2 linked regions of the Homo sapiens genome follow. The protein of the gene in region 1 purifies or fractionates together with the protein of each later gene. This does not show direct contact. Each region holds a gene or a part of one and is shown on either strand. Other genes may lie near its edges.

Region 1 (6,831 bases):
TTTGAGGCTCCCTCCCTCCTTAGCCAGGGTCACTTGTGCCATGCCTCCTCCTCCAGCCCGTGCCCCTCAGGGGAACCCCAGGCTGTCCTGGTGTGATCCCTGCATCCAAGAGCAGCAGGAGAATGTTTTGTCCCAGTGGAAGCAGTTCCCAGACTTAGGCAATTAGTTACCTATTTGTTAATCTTACAATAAGGGGGTTGACTAAGAATGGGAAGTTTTCCCAGAGCCAGGCTTTGCTTGGAGCTCGTCCCCTAGAGCAGGTGCTGCAGCTCAGCAGGGCCTAGGAGCGAGGGCAGTGGGGCTTCTTCTCAGCCTCCACCACTTTTGGGTCTAGGGCAGGGTAGGGAAACCCTGAGAAAAGTACCCACAGACATTGTCACCATTGTCTCCAGGCTCTTTCTCTAGAAGGCAGGGAAGAAGTGGGGAGGAAGACCAGAGAGAAGGTTCTGAAGGCCATGTGGCCCAGGTGCAGGCAGCTGCAATGGTGTCAGAGGGCAGAATCAGGAAACTCAGATTGGCCAGGGGCCTGAAAGTGAACCCCTGGGCTTAATGCCTCACTGGGCTTCCCACTAAGGCACAAGCAGGGCAGCCTGGTACAGCCTGCTGTGGGCTCACTTCCCTTTGTCCCTCGGAATGGCTTTGTCAGCTGCTCCTGTGCCCACACCACACCCCATGCAGCATCCACAGCTGTGGACCTGAGGAAAGCTGATGCCCTGTCTTACGTTGTTCAGCTCCAGGCTTTCTTGAAAAGGGCAGTTGTCAATGTCATCTTCAAATTTCCTACATACGGTTTGGCGCAGTTGCAGATTCATGGAGAACACCATCTTACCTCGCCACTGTTGGACAAAAGAAGATTAAAGTGGATGCACCGTCTTCCTGCCCCTAAGTAGCTACTAGTGAAGATGCCATTTGAGTAGGAGAGGCCCCAACACTTTACTGCATTTGAGAGCTTGCCCATGGGCCTGGCATCAGCTCACTGGAGGTGAAACCCAGGGGATCTTCTCTAGACTGAGGAGTTAAGAGCAAAAAGCAGGTGGGCATGGTGGGTCTGGGGAGGATGCAGGCTGAGTCAGACCCCACTAACACATTATCCACCTCCACCCACCCCCATTTCCCACGGTGAGACTCCAGCTTCACTCTCAGTAGGCATCTGATCTTGCAGCTGCATTCCCAGAGGACAGAGCCACATGTCCGGGAGGGTGTTGGATCTCCAAGAGTTTTCAGGGTAACTTCAGCCCTGGGACAGAGGGAGCCTCATCTACAGTGTGTTGTCAAACCTTCCAAGTGACCTCCAGCAAGAAGAATGACACACAGCGCTCCCACTACACACAGGCACACACCCTGGGAAAATGGGTTCAAGAAATACCATCTGCCCTATTGCAAAGTGCATGCTGAAGTTCTCCTTGCCCTCCTTCCCACTCCATTCTATTTAATTCCACTCCATAGCCTCCCTCTCACCCATCTATTCTTCCCAGCCCCCAAACTGATGCTGGGATTGCCATATCCAGGAAGCCATGTGGAAAGCTTTTAGGACTTACTGTCATTTAGGACTTATAGACCATAGTAAGGAGCTTAGATTTTATTCTAACGGTATTAAGAATGGAGGCTTACACTGAGGTCTTGGAGAATCAAGCAAAGCACTGGGAAAGCAGAAGCATGAGGCCTGGCCAATCTCAATCTCTGAGACTTCCAAGGTTCCAGCATGAATATTAGCAGCCACCATTACTGGACCAGATGCCCCTCTGAGGGTTGCATCAGGCTTTTAATTCTCCTGAGAGGAGGCAGCAAATGAGCAAGGAGGAAAATTCCTCTGTACCAGCATTGGAATCCTGAGGATGGCAGTGAGGAATCCACCCCAGGAGGCAGAGAACCAGCCAGAGCCTTGCACAGAGTCTTTCCAGAGCTTAAGCTCTGTGCGGTACTAGAGTCCCTCTGCCTTTCTTTCAGGCTCTTGGTGCTGAGAAAGGAAGAGCAATGCTCCTTCTCTCTCTAAACCAGAAGTTCTCCACTAGGAGGGCATTTTAATTGTTCATGCCTGAAGCCCAGATGAACTGTGCATTCCTGACCACATTTAATGATTTCATCAAAAAGGCAAGCATTTTAGGATAAAGGTCCATTGAGGAAGAGTGTAAATTGGCCTTCAGTTCATTAAGTGCAGACAGAGCAAGGAGCCCAGAGAAGGTGGAGATCAGAGAACTAACCTTTCACGGTGGCCTCTCAGGGCTGATGGTGTTCTTTATTGCCCTCGAATTCTCACTGTTCTCTCTCTGTCTGCCTGTCTCTCTCTCTCTCTGTCTCTCTCTCTCTGTCTGTCTGTCTCTCTCTGTCTCTCTCTCTCTCTCCCTCTGTGTGTCCTTGCTTTTCCATTTTCATTTTATGACCTGGAAATGTTTATCAGTCTCTTTGGTTATTTTCTCTTCTTGTCAGCTTCATCTCCTTAGAAGTCCTTATTTTGAAGTCACTCTTCAGTTATACAATGTCTTAAAAATCATGAAGATTGAAAAATATATTTTGCATGTGAATAGACATTTACCTAATTTAAAAAAAATTTTAAGTTCAATGTTTTCCAAAACTAAAACTACCGTAATTGGTTGTGGACTACCTGACTATGGACTGCTGATGGTGAACCAAGTCTCCTAGACTAGACATCTTGGTCCCTCACTTAGGGGCAGATGGAGAAGGACAGGCCAGAAGAGGATGTGGTCACCAACCTTTCTGTCCATGCTATCCTCCCTCCATGAACTCAGGACGCGCAACAGCCTGTAGGCATGCTCCTCCTTGCTCTGCACGTTGAAAGTGTTCAAGGCAAACTCCACTGTGGCGAGGAACATAGGATCCTGGACTATTTTATTATTACCACCCATTTCCTCTTCAGAACACCAGGCATAAGTCACCAGGAGCTGGAAGCCCATGAGAAGCAGTGACAGTGCCCAGGGCATAGCCTTCCTCCTCTGCGGACTCGACATGATGCAGGCTCCAGCAGCCCTTGCCTTTGCCCTTCAGATCCCTGGCGTCCACTGGAGCCTTCCAGGGCTCAGGTCTGGCCTTTAAATTCACCTGCTGGGGCAGAAACTCCTCCCTCCAGGCCTCACCTCTGCAGTTACACCCTGTCTCTCCCACACATGGCCTCCCTTCTTCCAAAGGCGTTTAAATCATCTCCTGTTTAGGGGAGAGGAACAGCACCCAGGCAGGTGGGTTGGAAAAGACTAGCAATGGGAGAGATAGTGCCCTGAACATGAGGCCCAGCCCCAGCTGCCCCAGCACCTCCGCAGGCTAAAGGAGACCTCTACTGGGCGCCCCAGAGTCAGAGCCCGGCACAGGAACACAAGTGTGAGAGGTATGAGTGGAAGGTGAGCCCTGGACTCAGCAGTGGGGGTGGGCTGGGAGGGGGAGGTTAGGTGGAAAGGCAGAGACAAAAGGATGGAAAGGGATGACAGTGGATGCTAGTATCATGGGTGAGCAGGTACAGCGCCCCGAGAAAGCACTGGGCCTCTTGAGAGAGAGGCGGGGAGCCCGGGAGGATTGGCGGGATGTCCTGCAGGTGTCTGCTCCCCCGAGGGTCTCGGGAGGGGGGCACCAGCCTGGGGGTCGTGGGCAGAGGTTGAGGAAATCAAGAGCAGGAGCCCCCAACCCTGTTCTCTGCACCTCCCTAAATGCAGCTTCCCAGCCCAGGGACGCGCTGCCAAGTGCTGGTACTAGGGGCCTGGCTAGTTATGGCTGCCCCTATTCCTCAAAGGTGTTTCCAGGACGGGTGGCCGCTTGCAATTGGAGCAGTGGAGAACCAGAAAGACGAAGATGCCCTCAGGGATGGCTGAAGTGCACCCATTAGGTTGTCACGGGTTCCCTCCTGTGGCCACAGCCGGCACAGCACTCTGCGGCACAGTTTGTGGGTGGAGATTCTGAGTTCTCGACCAAGACCCACATAGCCTCCAACTCCAACCGCAAATGGGGCTCTCAAAAGACTGAATAATGCACTCTTCACAGACCAGACTTAAGCTTTGTCCCTGTGAAATATGCCTTTGATGTTTATCCGTAGCTCCTTGTAAACTTCAGAAGCAACCAGCATCCCCTGATGTCACGTTAAAAAGCAAGTTCCTAGTTTCCCCACCCAAAGATTCTGACCCAGTAGCTGTGAGCAGGGCCAGGGAAACTACATTTCTCACCAGCTTCCAGAGGATGGTTGTGTTCCCGGTCTCAGAACCATACTTTGAGTGGTGCAGGTTCAGAATACTTCCTGGGAAGTGCATACAGACCAAACCACATATGAGAAGTAACTCAGCTTGAGGGGCATGGAGGTCAGGGGATGAGAATGGCTTTTGTGGGGCACACAGGATGGGGGACAGGCTTAGACAGCATGCCTGGTGATAAAGAATAAGAGTTTGTTTCTAGACCCTGTTTGCAAAGAAAAAGCAACTCAATGTGACAATTCCAGGAAAGCAGCCAGATGTGCCAAAAACATCACCCAAGGAGTCTGTATCCTTTCTCTGATGGCGTTGAGTTCACTGGAACTGCAGCTGAAGCGTAACTAATGTGGTTTCTTAGCTGGAGAGTGATGGTGCACGTAGGGGTAGGAAGGGGGTGTCAGTGAGGGCGGAAATGCCTTTGTGGGTTTTGGGATGAGCAGGCCATAAGGTGCTGTGAGAACTAGAATCCTGATGCCTGGAATAGGTTGCGAGTGTCCTGAGAGAGGCCTGCAATGCCCATGGAGGTCACTCTCACCTTGTAAGTTCAGCGGCTGACAAACTTGGGGCATCCTGCCAATTGCCAGTGGCTCCCCCACCATTCTGAGGGCCGATACCCACATGTGCTCCAAGGGAGTGCCCACACTCACTCTTACATGAGCAGTGGTTTAGGGTCCTGGGCACCAGCTCTGTCCTCACTGTGCAGCCAAGGAGGGGACAGGGATCCCCACACCCAGATGTGAGACCACGGGTGTACAGACACCATGGACCCTTACAAGTGTGTCTATTTTCTTGTTGAATCCCCAGTGGCCTGGGATGGCCTCACTTCCCAGGTGGAGAGAGACGGGAATATCAAGACATAGCCAGGTAAAGAGAAATACATGTGGGCTCCAGGCTGAGGAGCCCCGAAGACGTGGGTCAACATGTTGCCGAGGCCAGAGTGAAACCGGACGGCCCGGAGGGGCTGGCTGGCCAGCCCACAGGCACAGCTCACAGCTCTCTGCAGGGCTATCCCCAGGTCTCAGGTCTGGGAGGCTTTCTCTCCTGAGTCCCCTTGCAAGAGTTCTGTCTCACTCAGCTTCTTCCTGGGCACTCGTTGGCCTGTCTGTCTCTGGGGCCACCGGGACTTGTCTGGTGCTCTCTTTGTGTTGCTGGCACTGGCACCGAACACCCATGTGGTCTCATAGGAAGGTCCCAGTAACTCCTCACTGAAATGGACCTGCTTTTCCAGAAACGAGGCCCTGTATTTCTGAACGCATTCCTTTGAATGATTAGAGAATGCTGGCAACGACCAGGACCAAGCCACTGGCCCTTTTCTGTGAAGCTGAACATGAGGCGGTGGACGAGGGGAAGCCCAGTGACTCTTCGGGACACAGGACGCTCTCCCCAGCTCCCGCAGACCCTCCAGCTGAGTGCTCTCCCCGGGGTCGGACTCATGTCCCTCACTGCCCGGCCTACTCAGCCACATGCTCTAAAGGTCCCGTGCGACCTTGCTCACTGCCTGTTTCAAGCTGGGCCAGGCTCAGCGGGGCCTGCCAGTTTCAGGATCGCCTGCTGGGCTTTGGGATCACTTCCTCGGGACCCTCCCCATTCCCCCTGCTTGGCATTTCCCTAGGAGACTCCCCAGACAAGCCAGCATTCCCAGGGGTTTCCGTGTGCTGGAAAACAAGGTGGTGTCCAGGAGATCAAAGGAAGACAGCAGGGGCAGGGAGAAGCCCGGACTCAGAGCAGAGTGAGTGATCCAGTGATTGCTGTCATAGCAATCATCAAAGGGGCAGCTCGGGGCAGGGGGGTGAGCGGGGCTGGGTGGGGGTGCTGCCAGGGAATTCCAGAGCCCCCTCCACTCCTCCCTCCCCTCCTCCAGGTTTTCCACCTGGGGGGTTCTTCTTAGCTCAGTCTTCAGCTGACTTTGAGTTTTTATAATTTAAGGAATTAATCTCATATAGACTTATGGCAAATTTAAACTGAGAAAGAGGAATAATGATTGAATTAAAAAATGACAAAAGGAGAAATAAAAATACAAACATTACCGGTAAATATAGAGGCCTAAATCAGGGGTCATTCGTACCACATGCAAATCGGAAGGCCCATGGGCTGTTTCTTCTCCTTCCTGTGGGTCCAGCAGGTCCCTCACCCTGGCTAAGTCGGGGGTGCTGCCCTGGGCCCAGGAGCTTTGCTCTGAAGAGGAAGTGCTGCCCCAGTCACCCTCAGCAGCCCTCCTGTTTGCTGGCCTTTGCCGAACACACCTGCCTTCGCTCCTCAGTGGGCGTTTCCTCAGCTTCTGCTGTGCTCCCGACGGAAGCCTCTCCCATCCAACGCAGCCCATTGTTTTCTTTCATAAGTACTTTAGTTTTTAAAAAACTGTAAGTTAATTTAAATTTAAAACAGTACAAAAATGTCATAATACCACTTCTTTTTTATTTTTAAAATTTTCTGTAGAGATGGAGTCTCACTATGTTGCCCAAGATGTTCTCGAACTCCTGGCCTCAAGTGATCCTCATGCCTCAGCCTACAATTCCACTTTTACTAAGTGAAATGTAGGTTTCAACATAATAGAAACTCCAAATACCAGTGGCTTAAACAAGCTGGTGTTGCTTTCTCTCTCAGGATGCTGACAATGCTAGAATTCTTTCATAAGCCTCACTCCTGC
Region 2 (7,718 bases), on another chromosome or scaffold:
GTTTTTCTTTCAGCTCTACATCATTCACAGCCGGGCCTGGTGGCTCATGGCTGTAATCCCAGGACTTTGGGAGGCTGAGGTGGGTGGATCACCTGAGGCCAGCAGTTTGAGACCAGCCTGGGCAACATGGTGAAACCCCGTCTCTACTAAATATACAAAAATTAGCCAGGCGTCATGGCACCCTCCTGTAGTCCCAGCTACTCAGGAGGCTGAGGCAGGAGAATCACTTGAACCCGGGAGGCAGAGGTTGCAGTGAGCCGAGATCGCACCACTGCACTCCTGCCTGTGCGACAGAGAGAGGCTCTGTCTCAAAAAATAAATAAATAAATAAATAAATAAATAATTTGTTCATTCACTCACTCATTCAACACTACTGGATCCCAGAGACAAAGAACAATGTGGTCGCTGCCTTTGAGGAGTCTAGTTGAGAAAAAAGATGAAAACGAATTAAAAATTACAGCACGACATGAGTGAGCAGAGGAGGAAGTTAGGAAATTACTGGTTTGCCTAAGGGAGGCAGGGAAGGCTTACAGGAGTACAGGGAACCCGAATTTTGACTTTACTTTCCTATGCTCCACCTAAGCAGAAGGAAGAGTATGCACAAAGGCACAGGGGCAGGAATTAATACAGTACAAGGAAGCCCAGGGTGCGCTGGCAGGAAGAGTCCGTATGCTGGAAAAGCACGTTGGGCCTTAAAGTTACATTTCATCCTACAAGCCCCAGGAGGCTGGGGTGATGAGAGCTTGCTTTTCTTTTTTTTTTGAGAGGGAGTCTCGCTCTGTCACCCAGGTCTGGACGCGATCTCGGCTCACTGCAAGCTCCGCCTCCCGGGTTCACGCCATTCTCCTGCCTCAGCCTCCCAAGTAGCTGGGACTACAGATGCCCACCACCACGCCTGGCTAATTTTTTTGTATTTTTAGTAGAGACAGGGTTTCACCATTTAGCCAGGATGCTCTCGATCTCTTGACCTCGTGATCCGCCCATCTCCGCCTCCCAAAGTGCTGGGGTTACAGGCGTGAGCCACTGCACCCGGCCAAGAGCTTGCTTTCCTTATCTTAATTCAGGTTTACTGAAGTATAATTTATATAGAAGTAAAAACCACCCTTTGGCTGGGTGCGGAGGCTCACGCCTGTAATCCCAGCACTTTGGGTGGCCGAGGCGGGTAGATCACTTGAGGTCAGGAGTTCGAGACCAGCCTGGCCAACATGGTGAAACCCCGCCTCTACTTAAAATACAAAAAATTAGCCGGGCGTGGTGGTATGCACCTGTAATCCCAGCTACTTGGGAGGCTGAGGCAGGAGAATCGCTTGAATCCGGGAGGCGGAGGTTGCAATGAGCCGAGATCACACCATTGCACTCCAGCCTGGGGGACAAGAGCGAGACTTCATCTAAAAAAAAAAAAAAAAAAAAAAACCACCCTTTTAGGTGTATAGTTCTATGAGTTTTGACAGATTCACAGAGTCATCCAGTAATGTAAATACCACAATCAAGTTAGAGAATATTCTCATCATCTCAAAAAGTGTGATCAGTCCACCCTTCCCCAGCTCCAGTTGCCAGTAACCATTGATCTAATTTCTGTCCCTATACTTTAATTTTTTACTTTGAAATAATCATTTACCCATAGGTAGTTGCAAAGAGGGCCCAGGTACACTTTCTCAAATGGGAACATCTTACAAAGCTATGGAAAAATATCAAAAGCCAGGAAACTGACATTGGTACAATACTATCAAGTAGACTACAGACCTTATTCAGATTTCACCAGTGCTTACATCCATTAGCTTATTTGAAAAAACATAATTGGGCCATAGTATGAAAGAAGGGTCAGCCTAGCAAAAACACGCATTAGTTACAGTTGTCCACAGAAGAAAGGAGAACTCAGGAGGGTGCAGAGAGAGGAAGGGACTGGAGGAAAACATTTCTGGAGTGGAACAAAAATCATTTGGTAGACAATTTGGTATAAGGATTTAAATTAATCCTTCTTGATCTTCTTTTCTTTTTTGAGACAGAGTGTCACACTGTCACTCAGACTAGGATGTGGTGGTACAATCACGGCTCACTGCAGACTCGACCTCCTGGGCTCAAGCAATCCTCCCACCTCAGCCTCCTGAGTATTTGGGACCAAAGGCGGATGCCACCACGCCCAGCTAATTTTTTTTTTTTTTTTGAGACGGAGTCTCACTCTGTCATCCAGGCTGGAATGCTCCCAGGTTCAAGCAGTTCTCTGCCTCAGCCTCCCAAGTAGCTGGGATTACAGGCGCGTGCCACCACATCAGGCTAATTTTTGTATTTTTAGTAGAGATGGGGTTTCACCATCTTGGCCAGGCTGATCTTGAACTCCTGACCTCGTGATCCACCTGCCTCGGCCTCCCAAAGTGCTGGGATTACAGGTATGAGCCACTGCTCCTGGCCGCTAATTTTTATATTTTCCGTAGAGATAGGGTTTCGCCCAGGCTGGAAATTAATCCTTTTTTTGGAAATGAAATTTCCCATATGGCAGGGCAGCAAGCAAAAGGTTGTTTTAAATTGAACAGCCTGACCGCTAAGTGAATGAAGGTCATGAAAACCCCAAATAACCATAATATTTCTGCTTACTCTTATTTAAAGAGGAAAAAAAATGGTTTAGTTACTCTCTCCTTACTCTTGCCTGACTGAAAAAAATGAAGTAACTGTCGAAAACAAAGTTATCTGTTTAGTTAGCTAACCCTCTGCAAAACCAAGCAAATGAAATCTCTATATTTACTCTTAGTCCCTCCTGCAGTTCAGTACTGTTGTAGGCTTTCCTATCTGCTCCACCATTTTATCAGACTACAGCACTGATAATGCCTTAATCTCTATACAATTTATTTATAGACATCACTTACCCATCAGGAGACAATGGGATCAGCGTTGTTCTCCCCATTTTTACAGCCCAAGAAATTGAGGCTCCTGATACCCAGGATCACATATGCCAACACCGTAAAATGCTCAGAAAGGCATCGACACAGAGCTTTACTTAATACCCTTCTTTCTACTCCACCACACCCCATTTACGGCCAGGTTGGATCTCTTTCTACAAGAGAAATGGAATAAATTTGTGCAGGAGCTCCATACAGGCAATAAAAATATCTCTGGTGACAAAGTCCTCATTTAAACTCCAGTTTGTTTATCACTAGTTACTACCAAATACAGTCCCTTGGGAGTTCTGAGTGACCCAAAACCTACTTCCTGGACTTCAAGATGAGCTTTTAGTTTCTTTGAAATCAGGAAGTGTCTTAAAACCAGATTCAATGAAATACGGTAACAATCTTTTTACTGTGTCCTGTGCTAGGTATTTTATATGCATTTTAGCACTTAACCTCCAAACCTCTTATTATTAAACCTCTGTTGTTACGTCCATTTTAAAGATAGAAAAGTCAGGGCACAGAGAGGTTTAGAGATCACACAGCCAGCAAATGGTGGACAGTATAAGAGTAACCTCAAAGCAAGCAGTACCCCAGATTCCAATTTCAGTTGACTTAGCCTGGTAACAGTTCAATTTTATGCAAAACCCACAACTTCAAATGGAAAAAGATAAATTAAAACAACCACAAAAACCAGACAAATGGAGGCTCAGCAGGCCTTGTAGCTCATCCACGGTTACACAGAGGATCTCAGAGCCAAAATTCCATGGCCGATCCGTCTTGACTTCAAAGCGCGATCTATTTCCACCAAACCACGGAACCATCGACACGTGGTAAGGGGCAGTACAAAGATTTGTTGAATTAATAATGCCTGAAAACAAATTGACAATAAGAAGGTAAAAATGGAAAACACAGATAAAATCGGAAAAGCAGACCACTTTCAGGAAACAAAAAACTCCAAATTTTCAAGGCAGGGCATTCACGGTGAGCCAAGGCGCTGGGACAAAGTTTGCGCGGGTACCGCCGGACTCCCGGGCTGCCCGGCGCGGAGTCTTTAACGGAGATGGTTCGCAAGGAATCGGCCTCGGAGCCCGGCAGCCTCCTGGCTTCCCTCCTGACCACCAGTAACCCGGCCGGGAAACACTGGCGAAGACCGGGGGCCAGTCGCCTTCCCTTTCTGGGCTGTTGGCTTAAAATACACACAAACACAAGTCCCCAGGCGGTCCGCGGCCTCTCAGTGGGGCTGGAGCTCGCTGCCCGAGGCCCGCCCGGAAGCCATGCACCTGCGGACAGGAGTCTCTCCGAGTCGCAGCTCGCCGCCGAGAAGCACCCACCTCCCGCGGCCGGCGCAGCCCAAGGCCCTGGCCCCTATAGCCCGGCCTAGGCCCGCCCCAGGCGGGGCTAGGGGCGGCGTGGCGGGCGGGCGCCCCTCGGGCCGCGCCGGTGAGCAGCGGGAGCCGGCGCCGGGCATTTCCTCTTCCTCCCTACGCGCGGCGCGGCGGCGGCGGCGGCGGCCAGGCCGAGGCTGGGCACGGGCGCCCGATCGCGGCCTGCTGGCTAGCGCGGGCAAGCGCCGCGCCCCGAGCCGCCGTCGCCGCGTCGCCCCCGTCGCGACCGCCGGCCGCGGGGCCTCCGGGCGGCTGGGCCCGGCGAGGGCAGCGAGAGGCGGGGCTGGCGTGCGGGCGGCGGAAGGAGGCGGAGGAGGAGGAAGAGGAGGAGGAGGAGGCGGCGGCCGGGAGCCGGGGGAGAGGGGCGGGGGGTGGGCCGGGGGAGGGGAGGAGCGGGATTTGCGGAGCGCCGCGCCGCTGCCGGGAGCCGGCAGGCCCGAGAGTGACCGGAGTCACGGCGGGCGCCGGCGGAGCTGCGGCGTCGGACCCGCCTCCTGGAGGAGCTCAGCCCCGACCAGGCCCGGCCCCATTCCCGCCCCGCGCCGCCTCCCCGCCGCCGCCGCCGCCGCCGCCGCGGGAGCGCTCCCCTGCCCACCCCGCCCCCGCGGCCGAGCCCGGGAGTCGAGTGGGAGTCGGCCGGCCGGCGCGGGCAGCGCCGGGACCCCGCGGGGGACACTGCAGCCGGAGCCCGGGAGGGGCCGCGCCGCCACCGTCTGAACTAGGATGTCCCGACATGAAGGTGAGAGGAGCCCCCGCCCCCACCCGCACCTCCCGGGCCTCGGCCTACCCCGCCCGGGCCGGGCGCGGCGGAGGGCGGCCGGGAAGCGGCGGAGACTTTGGCCGAGCCCGAGCCGGGCCCGAGGCGCTGGACCCGGGAGCGAGCGAGCGAGGGCGGAGAGCCGCGGCGCCGCTGCCGCCACGGCCGCGGCCCTTAGCTGGGCCTGGTGCTGGAGGCGGGGCGGCCCGGGCGGCCGGAGGGTTTGCACTGTCATGGGGCGGAGGGGGAGGGGAGGCGGCGGGGCCCGTTACCGGCGGGAGCTCGGCCTTCGGGACTGATACCGGACGCCAAGGCCCGCCCGGCCGGTTCAGGAGCCGCGGGCCCCAGCGCGGCCTAGCGCTCCCGCCGCCCCGGAAGAGCCCGGTGTGGTCGCAGAGCCGGGCCGCGGGCGGCAGCAGGAGGCAAAAGAGCCGGCCCGGGACCCGGCAGGCGCGTCCGGTCGCCGGGAGACGACGGCGAGTGTCCCCGCCTGCGGGCGACCGCGGGGCTGGCGGGAAGGCTCTGCGGCCAAGGGACGGGAAGCCCTCGCCGCCTGGAGCCCGCCCCGGCCTCGCGGCTAGGCCTCGGCGCGTCCCTGGGCTCGGGTAACCAAGTTCCCGGGGTGGATCCGACCCCGCCGCAGCAAGCAAACTCCCTGCTCAGTCACCCAGGCGGAGCAGGGCTCGCTCCCCGCGGCCCTGGTGCCCTCGCCGGCATGTGCTGCCTACCAGACCAGGTTTTGGAAAATGACGATGGTGAGGTCTGTTCATGGTCGGGGGTCGTTTTGGACCTTGTTTTGCCATTTTAAAACACGATTGGAGTACAGTTGCAAATAAGCAGACAGCTCTAAGCCCAGTCCCAGGGCACAAAGAGACAAATGTTTAGGGTCGATGTATAGGCTTTGAGCTGGTAAGAAATAAGTTAACTTTAATTTATTGCCATATGGTTTAGAAAAGGAGGAGGGGGTTGTGTTTTCTTTGTTTCACTACTACAGGTTTTTGGATAAAAAGTGTTAAGAGTCTTGGCGAAAAGTTTGTCCTGCTAAGGTTAATACAAGATTGTAGAAGTGGCTTGAAAGTTTGTGTACTCCGGATTTTAAAATCCTGTATAGGTGATGTAGGAGTGGAGAAAGTTTAGTGAGTCAGTTTAGTGTGTGCTTAGCACTATGGGAAGGATATTCTTTGGGAAATACGGACCTTAGAATTTCAAGGCTGAAAAACTCAGATTGATTAAAATTGTATTTAGAACAAGTTTCAAAATTCGCATTACTAATTGCGACGTTGAAATTGACTCAACATTCTGTGTTCAACGATTCTGTATTTTAAAAGTTACAAAACTAATATGAAATATACTATATTTTCTTCGCAAAGCATTTGTTGAGTACTTACAGTGTTCAAGTGTTGGGCATTTTGAAATAATGAGGTACCTAGCCTCATTGAAAGGGACACAGAAGTAGGAAGCTATGCCTCTTTTCCCCACTTCGTCTGCTTAATCGAAATGTATCCTTATCTCTGTAATTTTAAGAACTCGTAATTAAAGTTATAATCAGTTTTCAATTTGGGATATTAAAGTTTATCTTAAACTGTAGTCCTGTGTACATTGACCACCTTCAAGACAAAACAAAAGTGAGCAATGGCTGCAAGCTCTCTTACTCTTGAAAACTGGGAGGGTTAGTTAGAGAATCACAGCCATGGAAGAGTGTTTCAGACCCATTCTCCTTGGTCTAAGAAAGCATACAGATAGTTCCAGACGAGCATTCTAATTGAAGTGTCCTGGGAAGAAAATTCCTTCACCCCCAGTGCTCTGTTAGAGTAATTAAAATCTCATATTTGGAACATTCTTGAATGTAACATATATTCTGTAATTTAAGCCCATTTCCCCCCATTTGGTGCTGTGCAAAGGTGTGTGGTTATGAAACTTATATTACCTTTTAGTTACTTGAATATTGCTGAACCTCAGCACACTAGTAGCACACCTTTCCTAGTAACTTATGTTAATGTCAGTAAATAGAACATACCTAATGAAAAAGGAACATACCTAAATACATCTGTTGAAGACTTATAGTACAATATTCGACAAGTGATTCTCTTTCAAGGGTCTAGTTTATGGCCTAAGACAGGAATAGCAGTCTCACGAATCACATTTAACTCATTAGATACATATTTTGTGGAATATTAGTTCAGACTGTCATTATTGTCATCAGTAAGACTTTGACCTATCAGTAAATACAGTGTTTGGCACCCTTGCTATTAGTTCTTTTCTTACCTTTGCCTTTTTTGGGCCAAAGAATCCCATTTCTTTCAGCATTTCTTTCTTTCTTTCTTTTTCTTTATTTCTTTCTTTTTTTTTTTTTTTTTTTTTTAGCTGGAGTCTCACTCTGTCACCAGGTTGGAGTGCAGTGGCGTGATCTCGGCTCACTGCAACTTCCACCTCCCAGATTCAAGCAGTTCTCCTGCCTCAGCCTCCCAAGTAGCTGGGATTACAGGCGCCTGCCACCACACCCATCCAATTTTTGTATTTTTAGTAGAGATCGGGTTTCATCATGTTGGTCAGGCTGGTCTTGAACTCCTGACCTCAGGTGATCCACCCGCCTTGGCCTCCCAAAGTGCTGGGATTACAGGCGTGAGCCACCACGCCCAGCCTCCGTGTTTCTTTAGTGGTGTAATTTTTGCACTCTCAGTCATCTGTCCACCT

The links.
Region 2: the proteins of CST9 (region 1) and KCMF1 purify together in Homo sapiens (affinity purification with mass spectrometry; 3 studies listed by BioGRID and IntAct, with this or other methods). This does not show direct contact.

The regions. Positions count from the first base shown.
Region 1 is NC_000020.11:23,602,899-23,609,729, forward strand, and holds the start of CST9 (cystatin-9 precursor), read right to left. Parts: upstream 3,020-6,831; 5' UTR 2,967-3,019; coding exon 2,712-2,966; intron 837-2,711; coding exon 612-836; 3' UTR 1-611. UniProt on the Homo sapiens protein: May be involved in testis development. May play a role in hematopoietic differentiation or inflammation. Has immunomodulatory and antimicrobial functions against Francisella tularensis, a Gram-negative bacteria.
Region 2 is NC_000002.12:84,966,462-84,974,179, forward strand, and holds the start of KCMF1 (E3 ubiquitin-protein ligase KCMF1), read left to right. Parts: upstream 1-4,699; 5' UTR 4,700-4,990; coding exon 4,991-5,006; intron 5,007-5,389; exon of another isoform or gene 5,390-5,739; coding exon of another isoform or gene 5,740-5,779; intron 5,780-7,718. UniProt on the Homo sapiens protein: E3 ubiquitin-protein ligase which accepts ubiquitin from an E2 ubiquitin-conjugating enzyme and then transfers it to targeted substrates, promoting their degradation by the proteasome.